Regions from separate parts of the Homo sapiens genome. Here region 2 is linked to region 1. Evidence: fine-mapped QTL for protein levels in blood plasma. A gene starts in region 1. The other region holds a variant in brackets. All regions are shown on one strand. Distances are between the middles of the regions.

What was found. PIP is the posterior inclusion probability: the model's chance that the variant is causal. Protein levels are from the aptamer-based SomaScan assay of Sun 2018.
Region 2: its variant is fine-mapped to the plasma level of the NCAM1 protein (Sun 2018, PIP 0.95).

Annotation. Positions count from the first base shown.
Region 1 is chr11:112,959,502-112,974,280 of GRCh38, forward strand. It overlaps NCAM1 (neural cell adhesion molecule 1), which reads left to right and starts at 1,919. Exons shown (of 20, transcript NM_181351.5): 1 at 1,919-2,163. The coding sequence starts at 2,112. NCAM1-AS2 (NCAM1 antisense RNA 2) reads right to left here and starts at 3,959. Exons shown (of 3, transcript NR_120563.1): 1 at 3,709-3,959; 2 at 1,866-1,975; 3 at 1-1,350. RefSeq lists an enhancer at 1,862-2,639.
Region 2 is chr11:113,255,330-113,270,585 of GRCh38, forward strand. NCAM1 (neural cell adhesion molecule 1) reads left to right here. Exons shown (of 20, transcript NM_181351.5): 16 at 548-672; 17 at 4,817-4,994; 18 at 14,859-15,066. It overlaps NCAM1-AS1 (NCAM1 antisense RNA 1), which reads right to left. Exons shown (of 3, transcript NR_034101.1): 2 at 14,875-15,192; 3 at 14,203-14,319. Among named protein-coding and RNA genes, the nearest start is that of NCAM1-AS1, 11 kb to the right of the region's middle. The variant T/G (reference allele first, on the strand shown) is at 7,625.

The DNA.
Region 1 (14,779 bases):
AAATGGGGAAACCATTGCAAAATCATCCATATGAAGAAATATTACATAGCTATAAAAATATCTAGAAAAGCTTTTTAATGATCCAGAGGAATAAATGCTTATACTGATGTTAGGCAAAATCAGCAGGATTCAAATTGCTACTATAATATGTCAATTATAAAAATCATATGCACATACAGAAGACAAAATCTATGAGTATCTCTGGAATCTGTGGGATTTGGGGTTATTTTTAGTTCTTTCTACTTTTCTGTACTTTTGAATTGTTTATACTTGGAATGAGAGAAATAGCCCAAAGTAAACGTTGTGGAAGATTTACTTGGGGGAAGAAATACTTTTCAGGGGTCCAAGCTAATTACACTGTACTGGTGTGGCCCACTTGGTCTATTATAGAGGAGGAAAGTGGGGAAGAGATGGGGCCTGTCCAATAAGGATGGATGTCCTGACAGTAGAGGATGGACTTTTAAAAACTGCTACAGCGGCTGGGTGCGGTAGCTCACGGCTGTAATCCTAGCACTTTGGGAGGCTGAGGTGGGCAGATCACGAGGTCAGGAGTTCGAGACCGGCCTGACCAACATGGTGAAACACCGTCTCTACTAAAAATACAAAAATTAGCTGGGCGTGGTGGCGCGCGCCTGTAATCCCAGCTACTCAGGAGGCTGAGGCAGCAGAATCGCTTGAACCGGGAGCAGAGGTTGCAGTGAGCAGAGATGGCGCCACTGCACTGCAGCCTGGGCGACAGAGCGAGGCTCCATCTCAAAAAAACAAAACAGAAACAAAACAAAACAAAACAAAACAAAAAACCTGCTACAGGAGTGGGGAGGCCGACCTTTGAAGAAAAACGGAGTACCCGGTAACATTAGTGCTTTAATGCCTTTGAACTTATGCAGACTTCCTCTGTTAGAGGGTTTCAGTGTTCTAGGCTAATGGGTTAACCTGACATCTAGAACACCTTTCTCACATTAGTTCCTTACATACCCAAGCCTTCAGGTGCTGAGACATGATTCTTTTCACCCCGCTTTCTCCACCCCCTACTTTTGAAAACACGGGTGGAATTTTAATTAAAGCCTATTGTGTTGGTACCTCAGTAATATTATACATTAATATCTTTAAGAATTAAGGTCACGTCCCCATGTAAGAAAATATTATTTAATGACGCTTCTATATCATAATACCTATATAAAAGCCTGGCTATTTTAATAAAGAGACCACAGATTTCAGAATTTATAAACAGGAAAACATTTTCTTCGGGTTATTTCTGGAAATCTCTTCCAAACATCGGAGTTTTCTTCTAACTTAAGTCTCTTCCCACCTCCTTCCCAGGGGATCTGCTGAAGGGTGTTGTATGTCTCTCTGTGGGAGAGCAAACTTCACAGTTAGGATAAAACAAACAAACAAACAATATCCAAACAACACCCAGCAACGGCAACCCCCATCCCTCTCCAAAGTTCTAATTTCCCGCACTTAAAGTCCTGGGCTATCCTTGTGTTGCAAGGATCTTAGAATCGAAATGGAGGGATTTGACAACTTTACCTAACCAAATCTAAAATTTTGCTTTTATTATTTACTAGTTATCAAAATATGCAAACTGCTGATTAAGGAAGGCTGGGTAGCAGGAGCGCCTGCGAAGGCGTAGGGTAGAAGTGTGAAAAGAAATCCCAGCTCTCCCAGGGAGACTGCGTGTGAAAGAGCCCGGCTCCCCCAAAAGCTCCAGGCCGCGTTTTGCAGGCTTCCGCATCTGCCTCCCCTGTCTCTCTTACCTCCTTGATGTTCGGCACTATTTGTGGCCGGCGTGGTGGAAGGACACAGTGAGGTTCTCACCCCCGCCCCCCGCTCCTCGCTCCCATCCCAGTTCCATCAAAACGAACCCGGGCCAGCGCAAGGATCTCCGAGTTGCGAGTGTGCTGAGGCTGGGACTGTCACTCATTCTCCGATCAGCGCGTGAACGCAGCTCGGCTGCCGCTGGCAGGAAACAATTCTGCAAAAATAATCATACTCAGCCTGGCAATTGTCTGCCCCTAGGTCTGTCGCTCAGCCGCCGTCCACACTCGCTGCAGGGGGGGGGGCACAGAATTTACCGCGGCAAGAACATCCCTCCCAGCCAGCAGATTACAATGCTGCAAACTAAGGATCTCATCTGGACTTTGTTTTTCCTGGGAACTGCAGGTACATTTTTTTTTTTTTTAATTCTCAATCTGGTTTGCTAATTACCCCTTCCTCCTACTCCTAGGAGGAACGCTATTATTTTGGGTGGTTTTACGTGGACTGCTAAGGCTGGTCATTTTCGTTTAGCTGTGAAAGGAGCGCGTCGCCCTTGCTGCCCAGCCGAACCCCGCTCCCTCCAGGGCTGCGCTGCACGGGGCTGCCTCCCCGAGCCGCCAGCGCCCGGCGCCCCTCCGGCGCGTCCGCCCTTCCCACTTTGTGCGCCCGCGGCGGTGGGAGCAGAGCCGGCCGGCTCCTGGGGACTCAGCGGCCGCGCTGGTGATGGGCAGCGCTCCTTCCCCAAAGGCGGGCGGCGGGGCGGGGGAGGTCGCGGCTCGGGTGGTGCCGCCGCACGGGCTCGGATTCCGAGGGGGAAGTGGCTTGTCAGCCCCGGCTCCGGGAAGAGTGAACAATAAGGCTAGGGCAGCCGCCCCAGATCGTTATATTCCTGGGTCTAATAAAGTCAGGATCGCTGCTTTGCTTCCCCCGCCCCAGAAGAATAACGGTTTGCAAAATGGGGCAAAATGGGCAGAATCGCACGGCCGTTGTTGTTGGTGTGACCGTTGTTGCACCCCAGTCGACATGACGTTAGTTTTTCATTTGCCAAATTGCTGGTTAGTTGCAAAGCCTACCCTCGGCCGCGAGCACTGAAGGATGGGAGGGTCGAGCGCCGCGTTTTGACAGGAGGAAGTGCGGAGGGGCGGAGGGCGAGGAGGGCGTGATTGGGGCTGCCTGGTGTGTGCGCGCGCGTGTGCGCGCGTGTGTCTTTACACGCGCCGCGTGCCCAGTGTTGCACGGGGCGGGAGAAGAATGGCAGGTAGCCGCCCGAAACACCTCGCCCTGTCTCCTTTCTTTGGGCGAGGTTCCCGATCCTGGCAAAGTGTGAACAATAGGGAGCTGGGAGGAAGACAGTAGTGATGCTGCCGCGGGTGGCGGGGGTTGCGCCGCCGCCCAGAGAACCTCGGCAGTGTGCAGGGAGGTGCATTTCATTTTGGCTATTTCCATCCCGGCCTCCCTGGAAAATTCTTCTGTGCGTGCCCACCCTCCCCTCCAGCTGTCATCCCCCCACCTCCACCCAAGGATTTGCGCTTTGGCTCTGATGGACGGGAGGGAAGGAAGAAAAGCAGGGGCCGCAGAGAGCTGGGTGGGTTGGGCGGACATTCTGGGCGGGGGGCGTGTGCTGGGAAGCGATCGAGGAAAGCCGGGCGGAGGGGCTGTGTGTCGCGGTCGCAGCTCCAGGTACCGTTGTACCTGCCCTGGACGGCCGACCCCCGGTTGGGGAGCGCACGGGGCGGGCCAGGGAGCACCCAGTGCGCCCCCTCCGCGGGCGGCACAAGAGCAGCGCTCGGCCGCCGCCTCCAGCCAACTCGGGTCCCTCCCACGGCGACCAATCAGTGCGAAGCTGGCTGGGCGGGAAGCCGCGAGAGGCTTTTATTGCGGCGCGGGTGGCGGCCAGGAGCTGCCAGGACAGTCTCCCGGTGCTTCAGCCTAACGGTCTCGCTCACTCACCGCCAAGAGAAACCCCGCCCTGCGGCCGGTCCCCCGCCTGCCCGGCAGTTTCCGAGGAAATAAAATGGAGACTAGGTGGTCACCGGGAGTGCTCCTGGTCCGGCCGCCCGTGCTCGCCCACTCTCGCCTCTTTCACGCCGACTTGGAGCATCCCACCGCCCCCGCCAGCGCTCACTCTCGCGCCGCGGAATCCGGGCCTGAGCGCGTCGCCGGGGAGGGCATCCTGGCAGGCACACCTACGCGCGTGCGCTGACCGGCCGACCGCGGGCCGGGGGCTCTACTGACGGCGGGGCGGGGCCGTGGCAGGGCCCGGAGAGGAGGGGTGGGGACCAAGCCTAGTCCGCCTGGCCCTGGGTCTCCGCTGCCACCTGGGCGGGGGCCACCCCGGTTATGCCCCTTTCCGCGGTGCCCGTGGGTGCCGCGACGCGACCTGTCCACATGGGGCGGGGGAAGGGGGGTGTTTTTGAGACATCCTCGCCCCCGGGTGGGAGCGTGACAATGGAGCCCGGATATTTGGTGGGCCTTTTGGGGGATCGCCTGGCGGTCCTTTCCATCATCGTGATGGGTACAGTCATCAGTATTTGGATCCCGTGGAAGTTGCAGGCCCAGGAATTCCCACTGGGATGTTCCTGGATGCCCAGGCAGGGGAGGCATTCTAACCAGTGTTCCCTGGAATGAAAGCGACCTCTTTCCTGGCCCGGTACCTTGAGGATGGGAAGAAGGCAGAACGTGAAACACATACAAGGTTGCTTAACAAAAGAAAGAAGTTGAATGGTTTTCCAAAGAGAAATAATTTCCCATTAAAATGTCTTTTGTACCATAGTTTTTTTTTAAAAAAATCAAAGAATTCAAGTCAAAGGGTTAGAATGAAAATGAAAACATAACAACAAGTATATATACATATGTATATATATCTGAGGTTTTTTTTTTGTTTTTTTTTTTTTTGTTTTTTTTTTGGACTCAAATGTAGCATGTCCAGGGCAGTGGTAACTGAGTTTGTGTGCTCGGCTGGGTGCATATGAAAATTTACATATAAGGCAAGCTAACCTTAATACGTCAAGTGAGTCCGATGGGCTGCCCCTCTCCTCTTTCTGTGTCCTCTGCTCTTTAGAAATACAATGAAAGGTTGTGCAATTGCATAGTAAATTTGAGTTTATTCTAGTATAAATTTTGGATGTTTTGAAGAATTGTTCGCTTGAACGATCTGGAATGGTTAAGTCACATGTTTACTTGATAATTTTGCAGTCTTCTGCCAGTTAAACTTGCAAGAGTCAAGGAATGGATAGGACTGGGTTTCTAACAAGATACCATCGGTTAAGAACAAAGAGCTACTTTACAAAAGCTAACATTGAAATCAAGTAGTATATATAATATCTCTCACTAAGCAAATTAAGGTGCGCTTCCACAAAGTTGACTGTGAGCACAGTTATAGTGAGCCATATATTTTTGTTGATTTTCATTTGAAGACTGAGAATGTGTGTTTTTAAACAGAATTTCACTGAATGTAATAAAGGCTATATAAGAATGTGGAAAACCTTTCACAACTCTAACCAAACCCTAGAAAGATTATTTTCTTTCAATAAATACTAGCATATTTAGAAATATTAATAACTGATAATTTGTTTTAAATCCAACAGAGTTATTAAAAACAGGGAATATAATCCAGACATTGTAGACGTGTGGGCTATGATTTATGTAAGTTTTTGAGTTACTATTCCCTCTATAAAGGTCTTAAAGATCTGCTAACCTAGCTAAGCTTCCATTAGTCTTTAACTGTTTTCTTAAGTTAATGCTTTATGAACGCCCTCTTTCTTTCCCTAAATTGTTGAACCTGATAACTTCCTTCCAGATACCTTTATCTAGGATTTTTTTTTTAAAAATGGAATACCAGAAAATAGCAGGACATATTCTTGTTTAGTAAAGGAGTTTCCTCTAAGTCTTACAATGATAATTGATTAAACTAAGAATATGTTGATTTAACTGGTGACTGGTTTCTTGAGTTTGATAGTTCAAGAATTAAGATAGTAATTGCAAAGAAAAAAAAATCCCACATCAAAACTGAAAAAAAAATGATGTGGGTGTGCTATTTGTAAGGGATGTGGGTGTTTACTGAAGGCAGCAATAAGAAGGAGAAATTAGTCTGTAGCACCCCCAAATTCCAAGTTTTGAACAGTGCTTCTGTTTGGAATCCATTTATCATTAATTGAATTCCTCAGATAGGTAATATGTAATTTAATGGAAGTAACCTATATCTGTATTTTTCTGTCACAAGGAACAATGTCTTAATTGCCTTTCAAAGTAAACAGCACCATTTTGTCACTCAAAAGCTAATCTTTAGACATGTTTTTGTTCACTACAGAACCCAGTTTCTCAAATTATAGAGAGCATTTTGTAAAATTTACACTGCTTAAATAATGGACTCTGGAATTTCTGATGCAACCACTTAATTTTTCAAGGTGATGAAGCCTCTGTTAAGTATGAGTTTGATAAATTTCTCATAATTTTGTCTTTAGTATTAAAGAACTGTGGCTGCTCTCCAGACTGAAAGTGGCTTCAATACTACTGGCAGGCTTCCAAAGACATTTTACAGACAGTCCTTTCTGACTTAGTGTAAAATAAGTGATTGAGTACCTGTTGCTAAAGAACGGGTTGCACTTTTAGGATCTTGAGCTTGTGATGGAGAGCAGAACCAATTGGCAGGCCAGGGAGAGAAGGGATCGCACCTGCCCCCGTCAGTCTGCGGGAAGAATCATAGACTAGGAGGAGACAAAGACATCTTATAAAGGCTCTCCTGCACCAGTTCAGCATTGCTTTTTTGAGCACACACATGTTTTCTGGTGTCAAGATAAATATTTTAATGTAAATTCCATAATTGATCATTTTTCAGTTTAGCAGTTATAACATATAGACTAAGGAATGTCTGGAACTTTAAAAGAAATGGCAGCACATTACAGGGAGCATTTTACTGATCTTAAAACTGGGTTACAAATTACACAAAATTGAAAACATTAATCACGTGGCTGTATAAAATGAAGTCATTTGAGCTTTTAATAAAAGTCACTAAGGTGAAAATTCCTTTGGTTAAAAAGAAAGAATTCTAAGTAAAATTCGAAGAAGAAAATTTTTTACTTTTCATAATATACTCAGTGACTCTGAGCAATGCTGTAAGAGATGGTCTTTTAGGAAGGAGGAAATGTCCAAGGACCTCTGAATCCTAATGATTAGGTTTCTATGAGCTCCAGAGTTTTCACTATTCGAAAACATTGTAGTGAAACTATTTTTAACAATACAGGTAGATATGCTTACTACTTACTGTAGGGTAATAGAATACAGAAGTCAATCTGAAGGTCATAGTCCTGTTACCTCTAGCCTCTTTTGTTATTAACTCTTGGGGCCAAACCTTAAAACCATTTGCTGATGTAAAGGGATGTAAATTATTTGGCGTTGGCAGTGGTGCCATTATGCCTTTTCATTTCATGTTGTTGAAATACTGTCTCTCAGCTGCAGATGCTCATTAGGAGCATTGCTTTTTGATGTTGGCCTGGGTGCCAAATGGCGGCCTTTCAGGCAGTTTCAATACGTTACATTTAAAACATGCTCAGGCCATGTCTACATGCAGCCACTGAGTTAACGGATTTTCAGTTGGGTAGACACACTTTTCCTTTCCTGCAGTATTAATTTAGCTTCTAAGCAATTGGAGACTCCAAGAGGACTGCACTAAAAGGATAAGCTATTTGGTGTATCTTGTGTATGTGTGCTTTTGAAAAACAGATTGTAATAAACCCATTATGCATTCTATTTTCTTCCATATATACGTAACACTTTCTTGAATTCAAAGATTGCATGGCTGATATGATTTAAAAGGCTTCTATGTAACCTATATTCCACTTCGTACTCTGAGGACTTTTTGATTTGTAGCTGCAAACATGGGTAACAGCTGATCTTCCGTTTTCTATTTGGCGTCATTCCTGAGATAAGGTGTAAAATGCCTTTTGTTGTACATTAATCACCTCCTTTGGTATCTGATTACCTCATCATTTAAGAATATTCATAGTAATGTCACACTGTTTGAGATTGTGTTACATTAGGTATTCTCTTAAATAGTTGATCAAATATGTTTATTGAGTGCCAGCTTTTTATCATCTGCTCTGTGGGGAATTAAAAGGAGTGAGATGACATAATTTCTGCTGTCAGGGAACCTTGGGAGTAGTAGAGACTAGAGATTAAGAGAGGTAGATAACCCTGGGTTGAAACCCCAGACATATCCCTTACTAGCTGTCTGATCTCAGACAAATGATTTAACTCCTTCAAGTTTCAGTTTCCTCTTCCGTGAGATCGGAAAATTAGTAATGCCTACTTGTTAGAGTTATAAATATTTTAGAGATCTTAGGACTTCAGTGCATGTAGGCAGTGTTCATTAGTGAGCAAGAAGGATATATATGGATCTGGAAAAAATAATTATTTAGACATAGTGCCCTCTTTTTAGAAGGATTTTAAAAAGGGTATTATGATACACAGGACTCCTTCAGAGATTAGAACTAGGCTTAAAAAATTGGTCACTAAATATGCCTGCAATTCCATGTTGGTTGTGAATACTTCAGAGAAAAAAATGGCCTGATTATAAGGTTGAAAACCATCAGCACAAGGGTGGATCTAGGTCTTGTTGGGCCTGAAGGGTATATAATTTTGAGGGCCTTCTTTAAGGAAAATACAAAACTCTTCTTGCTTTTGCGAAGGTTAGTTGAATACATGACCATGAGAACACATTGCCAAGTCCCAGTCCCCCAGAGCCTTGGAAGGAGTCCATGCAGTTGAGGAACCCTGAAAACTTCTGGTCCTTCTTTAGCAACTATCCTTTGGTCCACTTGGACCCACTTGCTTGGGAATATAAACTAATCGTTCCAGTTTATTAAACGTGGACCTCATAGAGGTTGTATGTGTAGTGCTTTGAAGATTAGAATCATATATTGAAGTCAAAGTCATTTTTAGAAAGAAGTATTTCACTTTTATTTGACAGAAGATCTTAAATGAGATCTGAGCTGATTTGATATTTGTCACTGCCGATATTCTTGTAAATTACTAACTAGAAGAAAATAAAGCAATTGCTATTATTATTCAAATGAGTGAGATGTAAGTGCCCGATTGGCAGGGCAAGAAGTAGTTTTGCCAGCTAAAGGCATATGATATTGGAGAGGAGACTGAAGATTTTGTTTTAGCTATCTAAAAGGAGATAAACTGGATATATAATACCAATAATTATATCTTAATCATCACGTTATGGTTTACAAAACACTTTGATATGTGCTTAATCTTCACACTAATTATTTAGTAAATATTGACTGAGTACGTGCTCTGTGCTGGGTGCTGGGAATACAGCGGTGAACTAAACGTACATCGTCCCTGTTTTCATGGAGTTTCCAGTCTAGTAGTACAGAGAAATATAGACATTAAAAAGTAACACATACATTTATAATTACATATTCAGATTCAAGTCTAAGAAAAACCCAGGATGAGAGATTATCAAGGGGGATTGGGTGGTTGGGGAGGTGAAGATGTAACATTTAAACAACTGTGAAATAGGAAGAACAGATGGTATTCTCATTTTAGGGCATGGTTGATTGACTACTTAATTCAACAAACATTGAATTACAACAAACATTCCTGAATTCCTTAACTCAACAAACCTTTGTGAAGTCTGGAGAAGGTCAGATAGCTTCAGGAATCGTGTGGAGTTTCACGTTATGAAGTCCAGGAAAATAATACATCTGCCTTTAGAGCTTACCACCTGGAAGGAGGGGAGACAGACATACTATACTTATAAACAGAGGCATGAAGTAAATGCTGTTGGGCCACAAGAAAGGAAGCAATTAATTCTGCCTGGGACTCCCTCGAGCTGGGCTTGGGGAAGAATTGCTTTCATTAGATGGAGCAGGAAGAAGGGGTGATCTGGGCAGAGCAGACACCCTGAGCAGTGGTTGAGATCTGAATCTGGTTGTACATGGGGAACAGTGTGAGAGTAGTGGGGAGGAGTAGCCAGAGATAAGGAGAAAAAAAAATTCTGCAAGTCCAGATTGTAAGTCTTTAAATGGAAACTGAGACTGAGAAAGGTTAAATGACTTAGGCAGGTGGAGCTGGGACTGCAACTTACGTTCGTTGTCTGAATTTTATCCTTTTCTAAGGCAAGGATAATTTGAATATATATAGCATCTGAATACATGCCAAGCAAACAGGAATTCCTGTGGCTTCTGGACTGAGTCTGACCAAAGTGTGGGAGGAGTGATGGGGAGGAAGGGCACTATTCAGAGCTGTGGTCTGAAGGAACCGTCCTGCCATTCTGCAAGTTGCTGTCGTTCTGAGCCTGTTTCCCCATCTGTAAAATGGGGTTAATGACACTTCCCTTGTGGGTCTTGGTGAGCTGAAATAAAACCACATATGTAAAGCAGATATAAAGTATGTACTCATTATGTGCTTTAAAAAAGTTCCCTGTGGTCAGATATTTTATTTGAAATGTTTGTTTAAAAAGGTGTACAGTACTCTGAATATGATGTGCAAAGTTCTGTGCTAGAGGCTTAGAGGAAAAACAAAATAAATTTAAGGTTACTATACTGACCCTTTCAGGTGGTTGGAGAGGAAGCACTTTTGCTTAGTTCAAGCTGCGAAGAAATCATGAAAGATATTATATCAGTAAGTGCCCGAATGAAGCAGGCAGGTAAAAACTGGGAAAATTGAGAGGCAAAAATCATGTCTATTAGTTTTAATGTCTGGGGGAAAAAAGAGGTATAGAAAAGCTAGAACTGACCTGGACCTCCACAGATATGAAGGTAAATAGGGAGAGAGGGCCTGTTTTCCTATAGGATGAGGTGGATCTGGCCAAAGAATTGCTATTGAAGAGCAGTTAAAGGCTGGAACTTGGGGCAAGCCATATTTAAATCTTAAATGTCAGACAAAGGAGAGGAGTCCTGCTGGAGATGACAGAGAAATTAAAAATATATATATATGTTTAAGAGGATAGTTAACAATAGCAACTGAGCGTGTGCTGCCTCAGGCTCTATGTTTGGGACTAGCTGGGAATTAGCAGAGAGTTAAGTAGGAACAAATTCATATAGTTCATTGCAGCACTAAAAGGGAATTCTGGTTTTATATAGCATCCACTATGGTGGTCGGACAAAATGAAGGGCTAACGAAGGGATTTTTATTGCTGTATGAAACATCAACTAGATGATACTAGGAGAAGGGAGGCTAGTGAAGTCCAATGAAAGTATCTTGCTTAATCAGTAGGAACACCTGTATGCGGGGAAAGGACACCATTGGGCTTAGATTCGAAAGATCTGGGTTCAAGAAGTTGCTCTGCTACTAACTAGCCAAGTGAATTTATATCAGTTATGTAACCTCTTTGAACTGTAACTTCCGCAATCGAATATAAGAACAAAATAAGATAATATATGGGAAATGCATTGTAAATGAAATATTTCACAGCTATACATTTTATTAGTAGACATGTTGCTGAAAAATAAAAATCAAATTTTATGTACTGCTAGAGGTGCTTGTTTGATTAAAGAAACCCAACTATGATATATTTTCTAAAGCAGGAAATTTTGGAAAGATACACTTGTAATGATTTTGGATAAGGATAAAGGGGGCATAGCTGAGATGTTAGAAATAACAAAGCAACCAAGGGTAGATGATAGATCCCAAATGGTAGATGACTGAGAGGGAGAAAGATCTTTGAAGTTACAAACTCGAGGAAATTAAATAATCATGGTACTGTAAATATGATGGAGAAATTAAGAGACAGGTTAGGTTTTAGAAAAAGTTTGGGCCTCCTAATACCTTAACTTGTAGGTCAGTATTTTTCAAACTATGGATGATGAAATCTGTTTAACGGGCTTCCATATATATTAAGAAAGAAGTAAGAGAGGAAGGAAAAAGGGGAGGAAGGAGGGAGAGAAGGAGGGAAGAAGTGGAAAAAGAGAGTGTGTTTTATATAAGGGTAAGTACTGCTTTGAGTACTTCAATTTCTCTCTCTCTCTCTCTCTGTCTCTGTCTCTCTCTCTCTCTCTCTGTGTAATATGTAACTTGGTTGTAATGGAAAATACATTCTTTTGGCTCAGGTCAAAAGAGTTTGGAAGCTACTGTCATCGAAGGAAGAATGTGGGATCAAAGAGAGGGTGAAGCAGTCTGTAGTGGAGTAAGAGTACGTCAGAAGGTATAGAATAGAAACTGAATGGGTTGTGAGGGTGGGGAGGAAGAAATGACAGCAAAGTTACGTATTGAGCATCTAAGCAGTCAGTTAACGACAGGGTGTGAAAAAAACAAAACAAATCAAACTCTAAATGTTATACCTTTTTTTGAAATGGTATCTCACTGTGTTGCCCAGACTGGCCTCAAACTCCTGGGCTCCTGCCTCAGCCTCCTGAGTTGCTGGGACTGAAGGTGCACATCATTGTGCCCTAAATATGGTACCTTGACCTTACAGATCTTACTGTCTGTTTGGGAATGAAAAGATAACTGGGAATACCAGGTAGCATCTACAGCCAAAATATGAGGCACTTAATGTTTCAGAGTCAGGATAAATATTGCCTGGGAACCAGAGGGTGGTTACAGCTGTACATTCTATTAGTAGACATGTAGCTGAAAATTATATAAAAATCAAATTTTGTGTACTGCCAGAGGTCCTTGTTAGATTAAAGAAACCCAACTGTGGTATATTTTTTAAAGCAGATAATTTTGGAAAGACACACTTGTAATGACTTTGGATAAGGATAAAAGGGGCATAGCTGAGATGTTAGAAATAACAAAGCAACCAGCAAGGGTGGATGATGGATCCCAAATGGTAGACGACGGAGAGAGAGAAAGCTCTTTAAAGTTATAAGCTTGAGGGAATGAAATAAATATGCAGACACTGGAGAATTCACACAACTTTAGGTGAGAGTTGAAGGAGACTTTGAAGGAAGAATTTATCTCCGCTGAGAGGAAGGGTTGATGAGGTAAGTATGTGTGTTCCCTGTTTGGGAGGTGAATGGAGGAATCCCAGTTAAAGAGACTAGGAAGACTCAAAGATGGTAGTAATCTATATTTTTATATGTTCAGTGGAGAGAAAAACACCATGAGTTATGGTCAGTACTTTGCGGGGTTTTTATCACGCCCACAAGTATTTATGTGGCAGTGTTTATGTAGCACACAGAATGATATCTTGCCTATAATTCAGAAGGTAATAGTGAACAAATGAAGAGAACCAGAGCTTAGTGGCACAAAAGCCTAGGTTAGAAAAGTATAATAAAGTGAAGTGAAAGAAAGTTGGAAACAAATAATATATATAGGTATAATCCCAATCTTGTTAAAAAACGTCTTTCACTCACCCTGTAATCAAGACTGGAAGACGGTAAATCACTATTTATGTTGTCTGAGTTTTTGATAATGAGCACATATTGCTTTGCAAAACAAATAGTGCAGTAAAAACAAGGGCAGCAGTACTAAGGGTGGTTAAAAGTATAAAGTAGGTGAGAATTAAGTAGAAACTTGGGATTTGTGTCAGAGGAGAGTAGTGATGTCAGAGGGATTTCAGTTGAATGGTGAAATTCAAGTTCTTTATTTAGAGTCAAAGACTGAGGAAGAGCTGATGTCCAGGACACTTGGCAAAGAAAGAAGGAAAGGAGGGCTGCTAGTTTGGGTGACGGCCTCATCATGAAGCTTCCTGGGCGCATTGAACTATGCATCACCACGGAAAAGAGCCAGAGGGAGGGGAGAGGTGATGAGCAACCTTTGCAAAGGACAACAGGACAATTTTATGCCAGAGGAAATGAATAAAGTTAAGGGTTTTCCCCAGTGACTTCATTTATCATATGAGTTGATTATTTTTAGATTCAGTTTTGTCTTCTTACCTCATTGCCTGTGGTGTTCATACATTTATTTCTAGACCTTTAAAAAATGTTTCTATAGCAAAATCTTTTGAAGCTTGTTCTGCATGTCACAAATTGGATGTGCTGTTTTTATCAGATCAGCACAGGAGTGATTGATTACTTTTCTAATGTTCGTTTAGTCATTTTCAATTTGAGTGTCCATTCTGTTCACATGAGAGGCTGCCAGTCACCAGTTAAGCTGCAATTGCTATATGAGAATTGGACTTACAGTACTCCATAAAGGTGTACTTTAAGCAGCCTTAAAGGCCTGTTATCAAGGGCATAAGAAGATGGAAATCCAATGAAAGCTCTTTGGTTTGGGTACATAATTATAAATTATCTTTCTTTCTTTCTGAATTTAGTATCTCCTTTTGGTGTTGGAGGCAGTGCATACTGCACAGGGTGCCCCATGGACCTTTGGTATCAAACCCACATTTCGAACTGTGACTCTCCTGCTTTTCATGACCTTGAGCCAGTTATTTAATCTCCAACGGTCAGTTTATTTATCTGTGAATCAGGGATAATACCTAACTAATAGGGTTATTGTGAGGATGAAATGAGGTAGTTTATACAACTGTCTGGCACATAGTGAGCTCAGCAATTTTTTCCCATATCCTTTCTTTCTGCTAAAGTTCACAGTGAAGGGATATACAATTCGCGTTGGATTTAAGTATTGATTCTAATGAGAATCACATTTTCCATTTATTTTTCATGTTCTGAGAGTTCAGGATCACTGTGAATTGCAACTGAGTTGGAAATGCCATGCTTCATTGTGGAGCTGTTTTACCTCCTATGAAAGCAAAGCCTAGTAGATCTTGATTTTGACAAAAGTAATAGTTAAAAAATTAAAAGTGGTTTATCTAGATTCTCCTTTCCATTTGCATAGGGTTAATATCAAATCTGTCAATTCACTATAATGGTTGAGCCATAAAATTTAGTGTATTTAAATAATGGTTGCTGCTAAAGATCATATTGGTGACACTTCATTAATCTGGAAGTCACTTAATCTGGAAGTCACTTACCTGGCAACCCTGATTCTTTGAAACATGAAGAATGAAGAAGTAACGGAAAGAGGCCTCTGAAGAGCTAGCATAGCATCTTTTTCTTTCTTGATGCAATATCTTTCATATCGCTGAGGAGTTCATAACATTTCTCTTGCTTCTTGTCTCTTT
Region 2 (15,256 bases), 300 kb after region 1:
AATGTCGTTCATGAAAAGCCAGTCCCAAGAATGCAGCATTATTTACTCCCACTAGAGATCAGGCCTCCCAGTCCCAGGGGTGAGTGATGTGTCCCGGCAAGAAACTGGGCTGTTTTACAAAATAATTTTATAGGTGGGAGTTTCCTACTCAAACACTTCTATTTTCTCCTATTTCAGGCTGTTCCTCAAGATGTGTCAGGCTTATAAAAATTAAATCTTCAGTTGTAAGACCAGCTAAAAGGAAACATAAGTACCAGTGAGACAGGGGAAAAAAAAAAAAAAAAAAAAGCCTATTCCTAAAATGGTGAAAGGACCCTGCTCACAGGAAGGCTATTTACCAGAACATTCCCAAGAGGCACTCTCAGTTTGGGCTCAGTCTGAGGCATCTACCTGGAATTCAGTTTTATATTTATTGCTTTTTAACCATTTGAATTTCTGAGAAAGCAAGAAAAGTGTCCAGCCCCACCCTGTCACTCCATCCCATTCAGATGGGTTGGATTTTCATTCTGTGGATGAGAATTTCATGTGAATTAACTGGCTGTTTCAGGGGAACCCAGTGCACCTAAGCTCGAAGGGCAGATGGGAGAGGATGGAAACTCTATTAAAGTGAACCTGATCAAGCAGGATGACGGCGGCTCCCCCATCAGACACTATCTGGTCAGGTACCGAGCGGTGAGTGGCCTCCTTCTCAGACTTCACCAGAACCCTGCAACCCTGGCACCCAGCTTGCTAGGGAAACAACAGGGGCAGCCCACGGGGCAGGGGTGGGATGGGGTCTTATTCTGTGTCTGGCAGGTGGCCCATGGGCCCTGGCCATGGCTTAAAATCCCAAGACAGCCCTACAGCTATTAGGTCATGTTCACACTGGGTCCATTTGGAAACCTCATAGATGACTGTGGTGGTGACAAACCCATACCATGGTTGATTTTTCTGTGTCTTGAACTTTTCTACAAAGTTATTTTGCCATTATCTAGTACTTCTTGTAAATGCCATACTAATATATAAGAATCCCTACCTTGGATAACATGTGTATTGTAGGCCAGGCACCTGCACCTCACTGTGATCACATGCATTTTCTCTGCACAAGAACCCTGTACAGTAGGTCTTACCATTATCCCCTCTTTACAGATGAAGTAAGTGGGTGTACAGCAGTCAATAACTGCTGGATCTCACGCAGCTGGGTGAGGCAGTTTGAATCCAAGCCTGACTGAGAGGCTGGGCTCTCCCCACTGCCCAAGGCTGCCTAAGGTCCTCAAACAATGCCAGTTCCCTCACCAGCCCTTCACTTGGCCACCTGAGCTGTCCTAATCCTGCTAACAGCAAGTTGGCTCTAAGCCACCTTCTCCTGGTTTGCTCACCACCCACTTAAGATTCCCCTCATTCCACCTTTTATCACAACCCCCACACTGAAAATCACCCTTTCCATTTTGGTTTTAGAATGACACTTGGTCATCTTCAACTATAACCAATGGCTGAGAGATTTAGAGGCCACATCTGAGCACTGAGAATAACCTCTTGCTGGGGTTTCGTAGTAGAGAAAAGAATGAACCAGGGAGCAGTTTCCTTTCTTCACATAGCCCCAAGGAAGACTTTTTCTGGGAAGCTGAGTTACTTCCTCTCTGCCTTGTGATCAGCTCCTGTGGAAGTGATAGGTCTTTAACTAGCTAGTCTTCTGGCAAGTCAGTTCAGCACAGAGCCCCGCAGGCATACTTCTCAGCTGCAGAGGCCTTGTTCCCACTTAATTTGTAAGCAGATGTGAGCTGAAATAGTAGGAAAGGCCTGTCACTGCCCTGAGGCCCAGTCCAGAGATCCCAGTGAATGAGAGGTCCCCATGGCTTCCTCACTGCCAAGTAGGGTGCAAGGATTGGGCAGGTGGCCCCCAATATACCCCTGGAAGCAGAGATGTGGTAGGCTGGGATGCCTTTCCAATGGTTATCCTGATGTGGCCCCATGGACAGAACATAGGTTTTAGAGCCAGACAGACATGGCATCCAATTCTAGCTTTACTACTTATTCTGGAAGAATAGGTCACCTAATCTTTCAGAACTTCAATTTCTCCATCTGTAAAATGGGGATAAAATAGCTTATTGAGTTGTTATAAAGATGCATTATAATATATGCAAAGAACCTGAAATGCACCTGACACTTGGAAACCTTTATAAATGGTCACTATGGTTACTGCTAAGAGGCAGGCTCAGGCTGGAACCATCTCCCGTATGACATCTCCAACCATGTCGGATGTCAGTTTGTCTGAGGAGCCACTGTGGCTGCAGCAGGCAGCTCTGCATTAGAAAGACACAGCTGGGCACAACGCTGAAATATGTTAGATTTCAACAACCGTAACCACCCTCTCTCACTTCAAAACCTCATTCATGTTTGCTAAATATTATAATTTTATATTATGAATAAGTATAATATAACATTTTCTCTAGATTCTGGTTGTCTCTTGTATAATGATGTTTGCCAAGGAAGACAGAGAAATGAAGAGGAAAGATACCGGAATTGCTTTCTTTTAAATGAAAGTGGGGCCACATAGTGATATATACACATCCTAGCTTACAGCATAGCCAGACTGGTTAGACTCTAAGGAAACTAGAATTCCCCTTCCAGCACCACTGGCATTTGCCCATGCAGCATGAGCACTGTCACATTCCTAAAGGCATCTCTTTGGCTAGTGCAAACCCTTTTGCCTGGGAGGACTGCTTTGCTGTAAGATAACTCCTCATCCAGCCTTAGCCATGGGCCTACAACAGTTACTAGACCACTGTCCAGGTGACAGTGCTATTGTGTTCTGCCCTTCCAAGGAGCAGCCTGTCATGCAATAAACATCTATCAAGACTTCTTGTGTGCCCAGCAGATATCCCAGGGCACCTGCCTTGTGAAAAGGCCAAAGATTGCAAAGAGATGGGCTGTGCAATGGTGAAACCATCTGAAGACTTCTCAGGCCTTCTTCCACAAACTGTTTGGTGAGGGAGGTGGTTACCTAATTATTGTTCTTTGTGGGCCCTTTGAGCAGCCCACTGTTGGACTTGACAGCAGAACTTAGTCCCGAGGTACCTCCATCTATTTGCTGCCGTTGTAGAGACCAGGTCACACTGCATGGAATAGAAAAACCTTATTCAGTCCAACAGATGTTTGCTGAGCTCCCTACTATAGAAGGGAAAGATCATGAGAGGAGGAGAAGACAAAGAGAGATTGATTGATGGAAACAAATACAGTTTGATAGGAGAAATACGGCCAAGTGTTTGATAGATCAGTAGGGTGACTGTAGTTCACAATTACCTATTGTATATTTCAAACTAGCTAGAAGAAAATAACTCAAATGTTTCTAGCCCAGAGAAAAATATTTAAGGTGATGGATATTTCAATTATACTGACTTGATCTTTACAAATTAAGTGAATGTATTAAATTATCACATGTACCCTGAAAATCTGTATAGCTATTTTGTATCAATTAAAACTGTTATTTTCAAGAACACAATTAAGAAAAACAAAAAAAAGGAAAGATCATAGTTTTGGGCCCAAACGAACTTAGCTCCAGCCTTGACTGCAGGTGTGATTTTACGTTAGTCACCTTACTTCTCTCTCACTTCCCCATCACTGGGTTTAGTAAGAGCCTGACAAAACCCCACAGGCATGTTGTAGGAATACAACAAGAAAATGTGTGTAAAGCTTTTGTAGTGCCTAGCTCTTAGTAAGGGCTCAACAAAAATAGTTTTCATTTTTTTTTTTTTTTTTTTGAGACGGAGTCTCGCTCTGTCGCCCAGGCTGGAGTGCAGTGGCGGGATCTCGGCTCGCTGCAAGCTCTGCCTCCCGGGTTCACGCCATTCTCCTGCCTCAGCCTCCCAAGTAGCTGGGACTACAGGCGCCCGCCACTACGCCCGGCTAATTTTTTGTATTTTTAGTAGAGACGGGGTTTCACCGTTTTAGCCGGGATGGTCTCGATCTCCTGACCTCGTGATCCGCCCGCCTCGGCCTCCCAAAGTGCTGGGATTACAGGCGTGAGCCACCGCGCCCGGCCATAGTTTTCATTTTTAACGAAACTGGAATCTACACAGTATTCACACATCAGGAAGGTGAGTCAGCCACTTTAACTTAAGCAGCATCCTGAAATATGACAAGAAATGTACTTGTTTTATTACTCTTCTAGGACATCCTTATGCATATGTCCCCAGCACCAGAGTGTAGCCTGGGAGACAGGAGTGGTGCTTGAGTCTCTGCATGCCCTGAAGGTGATGGGACCTTGACGGTGTTGGCCCAATGCCACACTGGCATCTGCTGTTGCTTGTGTTTGCCAGCATGCAAAGTTGACCTCCTGACCTGTGCAATTTTTCAGGCTGGTAAAGAATAAAGACCATGTCCCATCATTGCTTTTTTTTTTTTTTTTTTTTGGAGACAGAGTCTTGCTCTGTCACCCAGGCTGGAGTGCAGTGGCATTATCTCGGCTCACTGCAACCTCCACCTCCTGGGTTCAAGCCATTCTCTTGCCTCAGCCTCCAGAGTAGCTGGGACTACAGGTGTGTGGCACCACGCCCAGCTAATTTTTGTATTTTTAGTACAGACGGGTTTTCACTATGGTGGCCAGGCTGGTCTTGAACTCCTGACCTCAAGTGATCCACCCGCCTCGGCCTCCCAAGGTGGCTAGGATTATAGGCATGAGCCACCGCGCCCACCCCCATCATTGCTTCTTATTTTCATGATTTCATGCCAAAAGTTATTGAGTCCCGTAAGTTTTGCCTATTGTCTGGTCTTACCAGTACTTTTATCTAAAGCTTTTTTGGTCTCTTGTATCCTTCTTGCCGGTTTCTCCCAGAAGCTCTCCTCCGAGTGGAAACCAGAGATCAGGCTCCCGTCTGGCAGTGACCACGTCATGCTGAAGTCCCTGGACTGGAATGCTGAGTATGAGGTCTACGTGGTGGCTGAGAACCAGCAAGGAAAATCCAAGGCGGCTCATTTTGTGTTCAGGACCTCGGCCCAGCCCACAGCCATCCCAGGTATGGCTGCCTCTGCTTTCTGTTTGTTTCCGCTTTGAATTAATGCACAAGTGCTGCACCTCCTAATGCGCCTGAACAACCCTGACAACTTGCTTGCTTACAGCCATCCTCATGATTGGTTGCCCATGCAAAGCTTAGTTTTGCCTTGTACCTATCTGTGCAGTGGGGTGAGATGTACTGGACCCCCAGGAAGGCTTGGCCAAGCATCCTGGAGAAAAGGTCCTGTCCCATTTGGCCTTGAAGGACTGATGCCAATCAGTCCATTGGACCCCTCAGATGGGAAATGCCCCAGCTCCAGCCTAGCCTTGGAAGTTGGTTGAGTAAGGATCCTTTTTTGAGACCTTATCTGCCATCTGCCACATCATACTTGGACCACATAACTGTTTCTAAGCACTTCCTATCTGATGCTTGCTTTATGAGCACAGCCATGGTCCAAATCTCTTCTCTGTGGTGACCCTAAGAGAAGGAAGAGATGATGCCCATTTACTTACAAACCCTATCTACCAAAGGCCTCTCAATGGAAACAGATTAAATTGAACCACTTGTAATAGAACAAGTGGAGAAAATAGATGCTGGAAAGCACCATCAATGAAAGCAATCCGGTCTGCTAGAGACTGTGATGGCAGCAGTTCTCCTAGGAGATACAGATCTGTCTCCAGGGATCCAAGACCTAACCTTGCTGGTCTCCTTTTTGGCCAAATCCCTCAGAGAAGAAGGAGCTCTTCAACTGATCACTCTGCTTTTCCAGACCAGCCAAATGCCAACCCCAGGCAGGAGAGGTGGGCATAGAACATACAGCTGCAGCCTGTTGGGGGGCCCCATAGACCCTGCCATGTTCAAGTGTGGTGGGAAGACGGCCTTGGGCAGCCCCCCTCATGCCTGCCCTGTCTTCAGTGCTTGCCCGGCTCTTGGCTCGGTGGTCATGATTCCTCCTCCCAGGAGGAGACAGGCCAGAGGGCTGTGGCCTGCCTATGATGCAGGGATGTATGTGCAAAAATGGGCTAGGAGAGCAGCAACAAAACGGGATCAGTGTGTGGTTCCCAGTGGTTGTTTGTACATGGATGTGTGTGTCTGGGAGACGTGTGCTGGACCTCCAGTGAGTTGGCAGGTGAGTTTTACACTGTAGGTCAGAAGCATCAATTGGTCCACCCTGCATTGACAGGAAGGCTCCCCAGTGCTTGCTGGGGTGGGTGTTTCTCCACAGTCGCTGGTCAGATGGTCGGTGCAGAAGGCAAGGCACGTGGGCAAGGCTGCAGGAAATGTCCTCATTATACCTTAACAGGATGTTCAAATGGAGGTTCTCCTTGCTTTTCCTCTGCCCCTTCTTTCTCTCCATTCTTTGGTCCATTCCTTTACAATCGACAGCTTGGAGTGAATGTCCAGATCTGTCTGGCCTTCATGGGACACTTAGGAGGTGAGATCAGGTGAGGCTTGAGTAAGCCCTTTGCAGCAAGACAGATTCCTTATGGCAATTGCTCCCTGGGGTGAGACTCACTGGGTAGGCTGTTTGGACCTGCTGTGTTCACATGCTGGGTACTCCTAGCAGCACTGGCTTCTGTGGTTTTTGTGTCAGAGACCGAAATTCTGGGTAGACCTTGTCCTCCAGAGTTGTGCCTGCTGGAGATATCAGAATCCTTCTTGTGAATCGCCCAGGTGCCCACTTAAGCCAGAGAGGGCTGGGGGATTGCTCACCTCACCGGTGACGGCTCTGTGGCTCTCCTGCACAGATCTGAGAAGGTGGTGGCTGTGTTCTCGGTTAGACTTTCCTGGCCATTGAATTGGGATCCGAGAATAAAACCTCTCTGAATTACAAGTTGGACATTTGTGGTTGAATTCTGTGGTCAGCAAGCAGGGTAGAAGGTGAAGCGGGGTACAGAATGAGACTTCCTTTAACAGCACTGTGGTGTGGGACTTGTGCCATAGGAAGAAAAGCCTGCTTCATCTCTGACAAGGCCATCCCCAATCCCTAAGCACAGTGTGCTGACTCATAGTGCAGCGATCCAATGCATCTCCACCACTATGGGTAAAACACGCTAGACACTAGAAGACAATACACTTGCTGGCTGTATCTAAGAGGCTTCACCTTAGTGAAAGGTAACACTCTCCTAATCAAACTCTTGTATTTTAGCGTGGAGGCTTCTGTTCTCTCACTTTAATTTCATTTGCTCGCTGATCCCTAGCCCCCAAATTAACCCTGCTGTGCTGCTTCTGGCATTGCTGAGCTTCTGAACTGGCCTTATGGTATTGATACTGCACTGAACCCTCTCTAACCTTTGTCAATTTAATTTACTAAGTTGAATTAACCTTTGATTCTGTGTTTTCTATAGTTGACCTAATTTTTTTTCTTTTTATCTATTTTTTTCTCTGTTTCTGTCTCTACCTTCCCTTTCCTTCTGTCCCCCTCCCCTTCCTGTGTCTGTCGTCACACTTGTCACCTTGGACGTCACTGGGACATCCCCACTGCCACATTTGTTTTTAAACAACCACATTATCTCTGGGGACCCATTGCTTGACACCTGCAGCAACCTTGGGAGGCAATTCTGCATCCTACACCTTTGTCTCATTGCTTTTCTCTGCAGTGACTCTTCTTTTGCTCTGTTAGGAACTTGAACACAAAAATTAAATTTGCT[T/G]AAAAGCCCAGTTCCTATGAAAAAGATCAGTGCCCCCTTTGGAAGAACCTGGCAGGACCACCATGGCCACAGCTGCTGAGCAACCATTCTGTGTGGAAGAGAAGGTTTTGTGATTGGAAAAAGCTTTACCTCCAGACATGTCACCACTCACAGATACTTTTGTGCCACTTCATAAGGAGTTTGCCCCCTTTTTAATGGCAGTAAAAAGAATTTGAGAGCTCTTTCTTTAAATGCTATTTTTAAAAACCATCATGCTAGATTTACAGAGAAGTTTCTGCATATCTGCTACTTGTTGCATTTTGGGTTCAAACCTAAATATGATGTAGCAGAGGAAGAATTCTAAGTACCTTCTAAAGCTTGTGTCAGATTGTTAAAATCACCACACATTCCCCTCATTCTAACTCTGTGCTCCTTGTCCTCCCTTCAATAATAATTGGCTTTGCTTGCAATTAAGCATTTAAGTGCCCATGTTAAAAGAGCCAGACCGCACTGATTCACATGAGCGTTTTGCTGACATGATGGGCAACTGAAGTCACCCCTGTTGCCCATGCACTGGAAAAAAAGTTGAATTTGTTGGATATTTTCTGGGGCTGATGAACGTTCTGGGATGTGCTTTCAGTCCTCGTATTACGGCCAGCACCTTACACTGTCTCTGTGAACGGGGCCAAGCCATGATGTGCCAACAAGTGTCAGCTTTGAAAGGTGTTTGTCTCCCAATCGGGGTGACTCCCCTGCTGCCTGGCAGCATGTCGCAGATCAGCACAGAGTGGGGCCGTGGTTCAGCAGTGACCCACAGAATGGCTTTGAGCATCAGTCTACAGGACAGGTTGGAAGCATCCACTGTGAACCAGGCATTAGTCCCCTACCTGGCCTGTGTGTGCTCAGTAGAGAAGGAGAGGGACAGGCCACTCCCAGACTGCCCAGCCCAGGAGGGTTAATAAATTGGGGCCGAGCCAACCTGTCAGTGCTTCCTGAATGCCCCAGCCTCTGTATTGGTGCGTTGGTTCAGTGACATTTTCTAAACTCTCCTGAAAATCCAGCTGCTCCTCCCTGCTGCTTGGGAGTTCACCCAGGAGAGGAAATGGGTGTGTTTTGTTAAGGTCCCTTGTGGAGACTCAGGGCTGAATCCTGCTTGGTAATATCAGTGTGTGTGCTTGGGGATGGACCTTCTACTGAATAAAAACTCCCTCCCTCCCCCCATTGTGGTCACATATCATTCTACATATCTCATCTCTGAGCATCTCCATGGAAGCTTGATTTTTGTTCTTTTTGGTTTCTTTATGTATTTTTTTCTGTTGTTATTATTTTTTAATGTTCAAAGACTAGCCTTTCCCTTTGGGATTCCAAATGATCCCATGCTGTGGTCTGAGGGGCAAAGCCACCTATGTTGGCGCTCGCCATTAATCCCCAGCGCTCAGTTTAGAGGCTCACGTGCAGACATCAGAGGCTCCATGCTGCACAGTAGCTCAGGCAGGGTAGTGCCTCTCAACCCAGCCACAAAACTCTCCCCGCTGGAGTCCCAGATGGCGCTTCACACCAGGGCAGTGGAGGCAGGCATGGTTTTTGGGCACAGGGCAGAGCATAAGGATCCCAGGTCAGTGTGGGAGAGCTACTGGCTCTTAGGATCACCTTGGGCAGAAGTCACACGGCTTCATCCTAGGAGGGCCCAGCTTGGGAGTCTGCCTCCCCCTGATCCCAGGACCACCCACAGGAGAGGGGCAGTGTCCATCTTTCTGAAGGGACCCTTTGGAGATCTCGTCCTAAGTGTGGAGAGGACTGACGTGGCCCTGTCATCTCAACACATCCCAGGGTCAGGCAGGCCTCAGCTGAAACAATGTCAGGGTCCTCAAGGGTCCCATTTAGACAGACCCACGGCTTGTAACAGTGCGCTCCTCAGGAGGCAGCACTAGCGCATACCCACTCCCCACGGACACTGAGTTCCTGGTGACAGCTGCAGCCCCAGCCCCGCCAGGAGTCCTGGAGACAGCAGCCCTCAGAGACCCTGCAGGAGTGAGTGCACCCCACCTTGCTCAGCCACACCCCACTCCCCTGTGCCCTGTAGTTGTGCTGCCCATGCTCCACACACCATGGGGCCCCTTTGCTCATTTTTGGACTATTTATACAGCAGGTTTGGATCATGTTTTTCTACTAATAAGAATGCTAACATTGTTGTGTAGATAATCAGTGAGGGCTTTATGAAGTTTACACCTTTGCATTATTAAAGGAAATAACAGTTCATGTGAACTCACCAGCGTGGCTTGATTTTATTCAATAGTTGTGTCTGACAAAGCAGCAAAGACCCTTTCCCTCCGCCTCTCATGTACCTGGATAGACTATTACCTAGAGAAATAGTAGCCTGGTGAATGAAATACTTTTTCTTCCTAACGGGGAGCAATCTCTTTTTCCCAGGCATCCTAAGAGCTGTTAAGAGGCATTGCTGCCTTGGAGTCCCCAGCAGGCAGTGGGAGGGGAAAATGCCTTTGCAGAACTGGGGAGGTGGTCACTATGGGGATGGGGCCACACTCTGAGCCAACAGATGCACAACTCTGTGGCAAGGTCACCTGATGACACAGCAGCCTTTATACTATCCCTAACAGAGGCTGCACAGAGTGAGCTTGTGGAGAGGGAATCTGAGAGAAGATTCTCTTTGCAAACTGTATTCTATTCATAATCACACTTAACTCAGACGCATCCTGCAAGCCCCTGAGACCAGCCATCTGTTTAGCTGATTCGAAGGAGCAAGCAGACATGTAAAGGGCTTATGAGTGAACCAGAACCCCAGCTCAACAGTTCCAAGAGTCTGACCATCTTCTGGGAGTCTTGGGGGTGAAAAGGGCATTTCTGCTGCACCAGGGTCTCATGGCACAAGGACTCAGGCCCATCTGGATATTTATAAAATGTGAGACCCATGTTCCTATATTAAGGCATACAAAAATAGGCATCTGTGGGTCTCATTCTTGGAGCAAGCCAGTTCCCTCTTTAGTGCCAACCCCTCCCAAGCCAGGAATCACAGAAGATGGACAGCTCCACCTTCATAATCTCCCTGTCCTGGGCAGCTCTGACCTCGAGGTTATGGGGAAACTCTTCCCCAGAAGCCTTCTTTGCATCCAAGGTGCACAGGTGAGTTAGTCAAGGGAGGGCTGAGGGAAGACCATAGCAAAGACAGACCCATGGAGGTTTATATTTTTCCTTTTATGAAATATTACACAAGAGGCAGGAGATGGCCTTTGTTCTTCTAGTTATCTTGGACTAAACAATTCTGTGATAGCCACTGAGAGGGAATGGGTGTTGGCTTTCGCCTTCAATACCCTGCTGCCCATTTCACAGCCTGTCCCTTCTTCACAGCCTCTTTTTTGTAAAAGCCACAAACATTCTCTTCCTAGCTTAAAGAGCATCTCACCTGCTTGAGGAGTTTAGACTCAGTGTTGGCATACAGTATGGTCGCTTTTCCTTTGGGGCATACTCTTTGTTTTCTCTTGATCCACTCAATACCTTAGGTCAAGTTTGTTTTCAGGGTCACTGGGTGAGACAGCACAGTGCACCCTGGGGTGGCAAATCATGGGATCACGTGCTCCTCTTTGTAATGCAGGGGAGGGAAGACCTAGGAGCGTGGTCCTCATAAGAATCACCTGGGCTGCTTGTTCAACTCCTGTTTCCTGAGCCTCATACCCAGTGATTCAGATCCCATAAAAGTGGGGAGCCCCAGATTCTGAATTGTTAACAAACACCCTAGGAATTTGCTACAGGTGGAGATATATTGAGTTTAAAGGTATTTGTCATGCAAAAATAAAATCACAAGGATCAGTGATTAAATATGGGACCTACCGAGCATTTTGGTCTTCCAGGAAAAAGTCTTTCTCAGTCCACACTCTGGAGACTGGCATTAGGGAACCTGTACCGTGTGCCAGGCAGTGTAGAATGTATGACTTGGAATGACAGGCTCTTGTGGTTGAAGAGACACTCTCCACCCATGCTCCTGCCCAGTGTGGGAGCCTCATCCACAGCCTTACAGCGTCCCTGCCAAGGGGTCTTCTGGCCTCTGCTCGAGTGCCTTCAGCATCAAGGAACTCACCTCTCAGAGCAGCCCACACTATGTTGGATTCGCCCTGTTTATTAGTCCTTTCTCAGATGGAGCTAAAATCTGCCACCACCATAATTTCCACACATTGGTGCCATATACAGTAAGACTACTTCTTCCTTCTGGTTATAACACCTTTAAATATTTGGAAATAGTATTCTCGTCTCCAGACTAAACACTCATCCATTTGTGCAACAAGTATTCTTTGAACATTTTCTGTGAATCAGGATTGTCCTAGATGCTGGGGAGATACAAGAGAGACAGGCAGGGTACCTGCTGGGATGTCCTAGGGGGGATGGCTAGATCATAAGCATGTAAATGAACAGAAAGTGGCAGATAGTAGTTAGAAGAGAATAAAACAGGCTAGCAGCATGGTAGGTATTGGCTGGAGGTGCCACACTAGATAAGAGATCAGATAAGGCTTCTCTGAGAAGGTGACACTGGGACTGAGGCCTGCAGGACAACAGAGAGCCACCCTGGAGGGAGTGTTCCAGGCACAGAATCATCAAGGCCCTAAAGCGGGTTGAGCTGGATGTGTTCAGCAGGCAGAAGGGAGGCTGCCGGTTCACGCCATGAGGCCCAACAGAGGAGTGGGCAGAGTCTGCAGCAGATGGTGGGCCTTTTAGGCCGGGAGAAAGACTTTGAATTTTATATTCAAATGAAAGGGGAGGCCGCTGCCCTACTTGTTTATGCCACAGTTCAGAAGCCTTTTCCCTGCCTGGCCCTCCCCTGGATGTGCGCAGTGCCAGTGCCGCCCTCCAGCTGGGTCTGATGAGCACAGAGCAGTTGTCCCAGCTGCTGTCCTCTCAAGCACATAGAGCAGCTTTGCAGGAGTTTATTTTTCCTCTTTAGAGATATGATTAGTTTCACAAAATCATATTTACACATAAACCTCAGAAGATATAATTAGTGCCATTGAGTCCAAAAATCCAGACATATTCCCCACTGTCATCAAAAAAATACTTTCAGATCTTTCTTCAGGGAGTAGGCACTTTACACCTATCGGGTACTGATGTCCGGAAGCTGCAGTGGCCTGGAGCCCTGTGTCATGGAATGGAGAGAAAACCCAAGGCTAAAGTTTCTTCCCTGTTCAGGGAAACAGCTATGGGATCCTGAAGACCAAGAAGGCCTGTGTCTCCTTTGCTTTTTGGGTGGAATGTGTGAGGACTCTGGGGAAGTGGATGGTTTTGTTCTTATGAGACTAACCAGAAATACCTCTGCATTCATGGCTGCTAAGAAAATGACCCATTCTAGCTGACGGCTAAGGCCAGTGGCCAGCTTCCTGCTGCCAAAGCCCAGAGACAGGTGTCCAGAGCTGGGTTCTCCAAGCAGAGTTCTTCGCCATCTCAAGCCTTCCTGGGGGAATGCGCTAGGATCTTCAGTGCGAGGTCAGCAGGGACCAGCCAGAGAGCCTGAGGAGGAAGGGCTGGGAGGCAAGCCAAGGTCCCAAAGGGACTAAAAACATGTACGAGCTGCACCCAGGGGTCTCAGGAGTCATTTGTGAGGGATCCTCTCTGGCATGCTAGGCTGATGGCCCATTCCCCAAACTGAAGTTTGAAATATGGACCAGTGGAGAGGGACAGCCACCAGAGAAGCACTAGAGTGCCTGGACAGAGACCCCTGGGGCACACAGAGCCATCAATACCACCACCCTCCCGCAAATACAGGCTGCATGAAAAACAAAAAATGTGTGGCCCAGCTCTGGTGCTGGTTACTCAGTTACATGTTCCCTCCACTATCTATCTGGCATGTTACATGGCTCGCAAGCTGCTGAGCCTGGCCTGGTGCTTGGCAAAGCCTAGCGAGCTGGGTTGGGAGTGGGGTGGCTGGTGGGGTGAGCCCCAGGTAGTGCTGGCTACAGTTCCCATCTTCAGTCTGCAGTCCTGGGTGGCTTCAGTTGGCCCTGAGAGCACAGGAAGCTTTAGACATAGTCTACTGGTGGGGCAGGGCTGCCAGTTATGGAAGCAGGTTGTTCTGGAGGAAAGATGAATTAGAAGTGCCCATATTTCAGTCGAGGGTGATTGTTCCCACATCGACTTAATGGCAGAGCTCCACATGGGTCCTTGCTTCCTGCATCATGACCACTGTCTCCCAGACACTGATGGGAACCACCAAGAGGTCAATTGGTCCATCCCAGGCAACTAGTGTCAATCGTAACCATGGGTTGATCTCCCAGGGGCCCCAGAGAGCTGAGTCCAGGTCTCTCTGTGAAACCATCAATAGCCAAAGACCCTGGGGGGATTGCAGATGGGCACCAGGGAAGTAAGACACAGGCTGAGTCTTTCACAGTGAGTCCAGCCAGAACCAGGGTGCCAGGTGCTAGAATGTGAGAGTGCATGCCTGTCTGCATGGGCATTTATCCTGCGTGTGAGTGTGCCTGTGTGTGTGTGCACCTCTGAGTGAGTCTGCACTCACTTCAGGTTTTCCTGAAGTCTGGTCCAAGCAGGCCTGAGCTCCTAGATGGTGAGTATTCCCAGACCTTTCACCTTGCCCATGGCCTGGGGAGGCCTCCATGTCTCTGGAGTCACCCAGGCTTCACTTGTCTTCCTGGGGTGCAGTGAGGAGGGTAAACTATGAACCCAGTGTGCTCTAATGCAGGGCTCCTTTGGGGTCATTCCTAAAGAGGGAAAGAGGAAGTGGAGAAGTATAATGGGGATGCTATTGTGATGGACAACCCAACAAGCCCCAAGAAAGCCCCAGGAACCCTCCACCACCCCATTTTGGGCCCCTATCCCTGAGCACTTGAGGAGCCACAGCCCCGCCTGAAATCAGTGATCACTGCCTGCCTGTGCTGCAAAGCCTTTTGCCCTGGTCCAGGGGAAACACAGCAGCGCCCTCCAACTGCCTCATTATCCGGTGTTCTCAGACAGGCGGGGCTCAGTCTGCTCCCAGGACTCACGGGAGGCCAGCTGACCAGGCTCACCCCTGTTCCCCAATCTGTGAGATGATGTTGTCATCCCTCCCTCTGGAAGGTATAGAAAGACCCTGTTTTCTCAATTCTGGGGCATAGAAGGTCCCCAGGAAGGTGTCACTCTGGGCATGAATGCCATGACTCTGTCCTCTGGGCCCTCCCCACCCGCAGGGGCTTTTGCTGGCAGGGTCTGGAGGTCTCGCATCTCAGTCTGTTAACCACCAGCCATCTCTCTCCCACTCAAGCCAACGGCAGCCCCACCTCAGGCCTGAGCACCGGGGCCATCGTGGGCATCCTCATCGTCATCTTCGTCCTGCTCCTGGTGGTTGTGGACATCACCTGCTACTTCCTGAACAAGTGTGGCCTGTTCATGTGCATTGCGGTCAACCTGTGTGGAAAAGCCGGGCCCGGGGCCAAGGGCAAGGACATGGAGGAGGGCAAGGCCGCCTTCTCGTGAGTGCAGACCTGTCCACCTTGCTGAGGTTTGGGCTCTGCTCCAGCCCAGGGACCCAGCAGCTGCACCACCCTGCGCCATCAGCTGGTGCCTTTCCTTTCATTGCACGTTCTCCATTTGGAACCCTGATGGGGGAAAAACATTAGAGAAAAGTTTCTCAAAGCATGGTCTTTGGGGGTTACCTGTTTG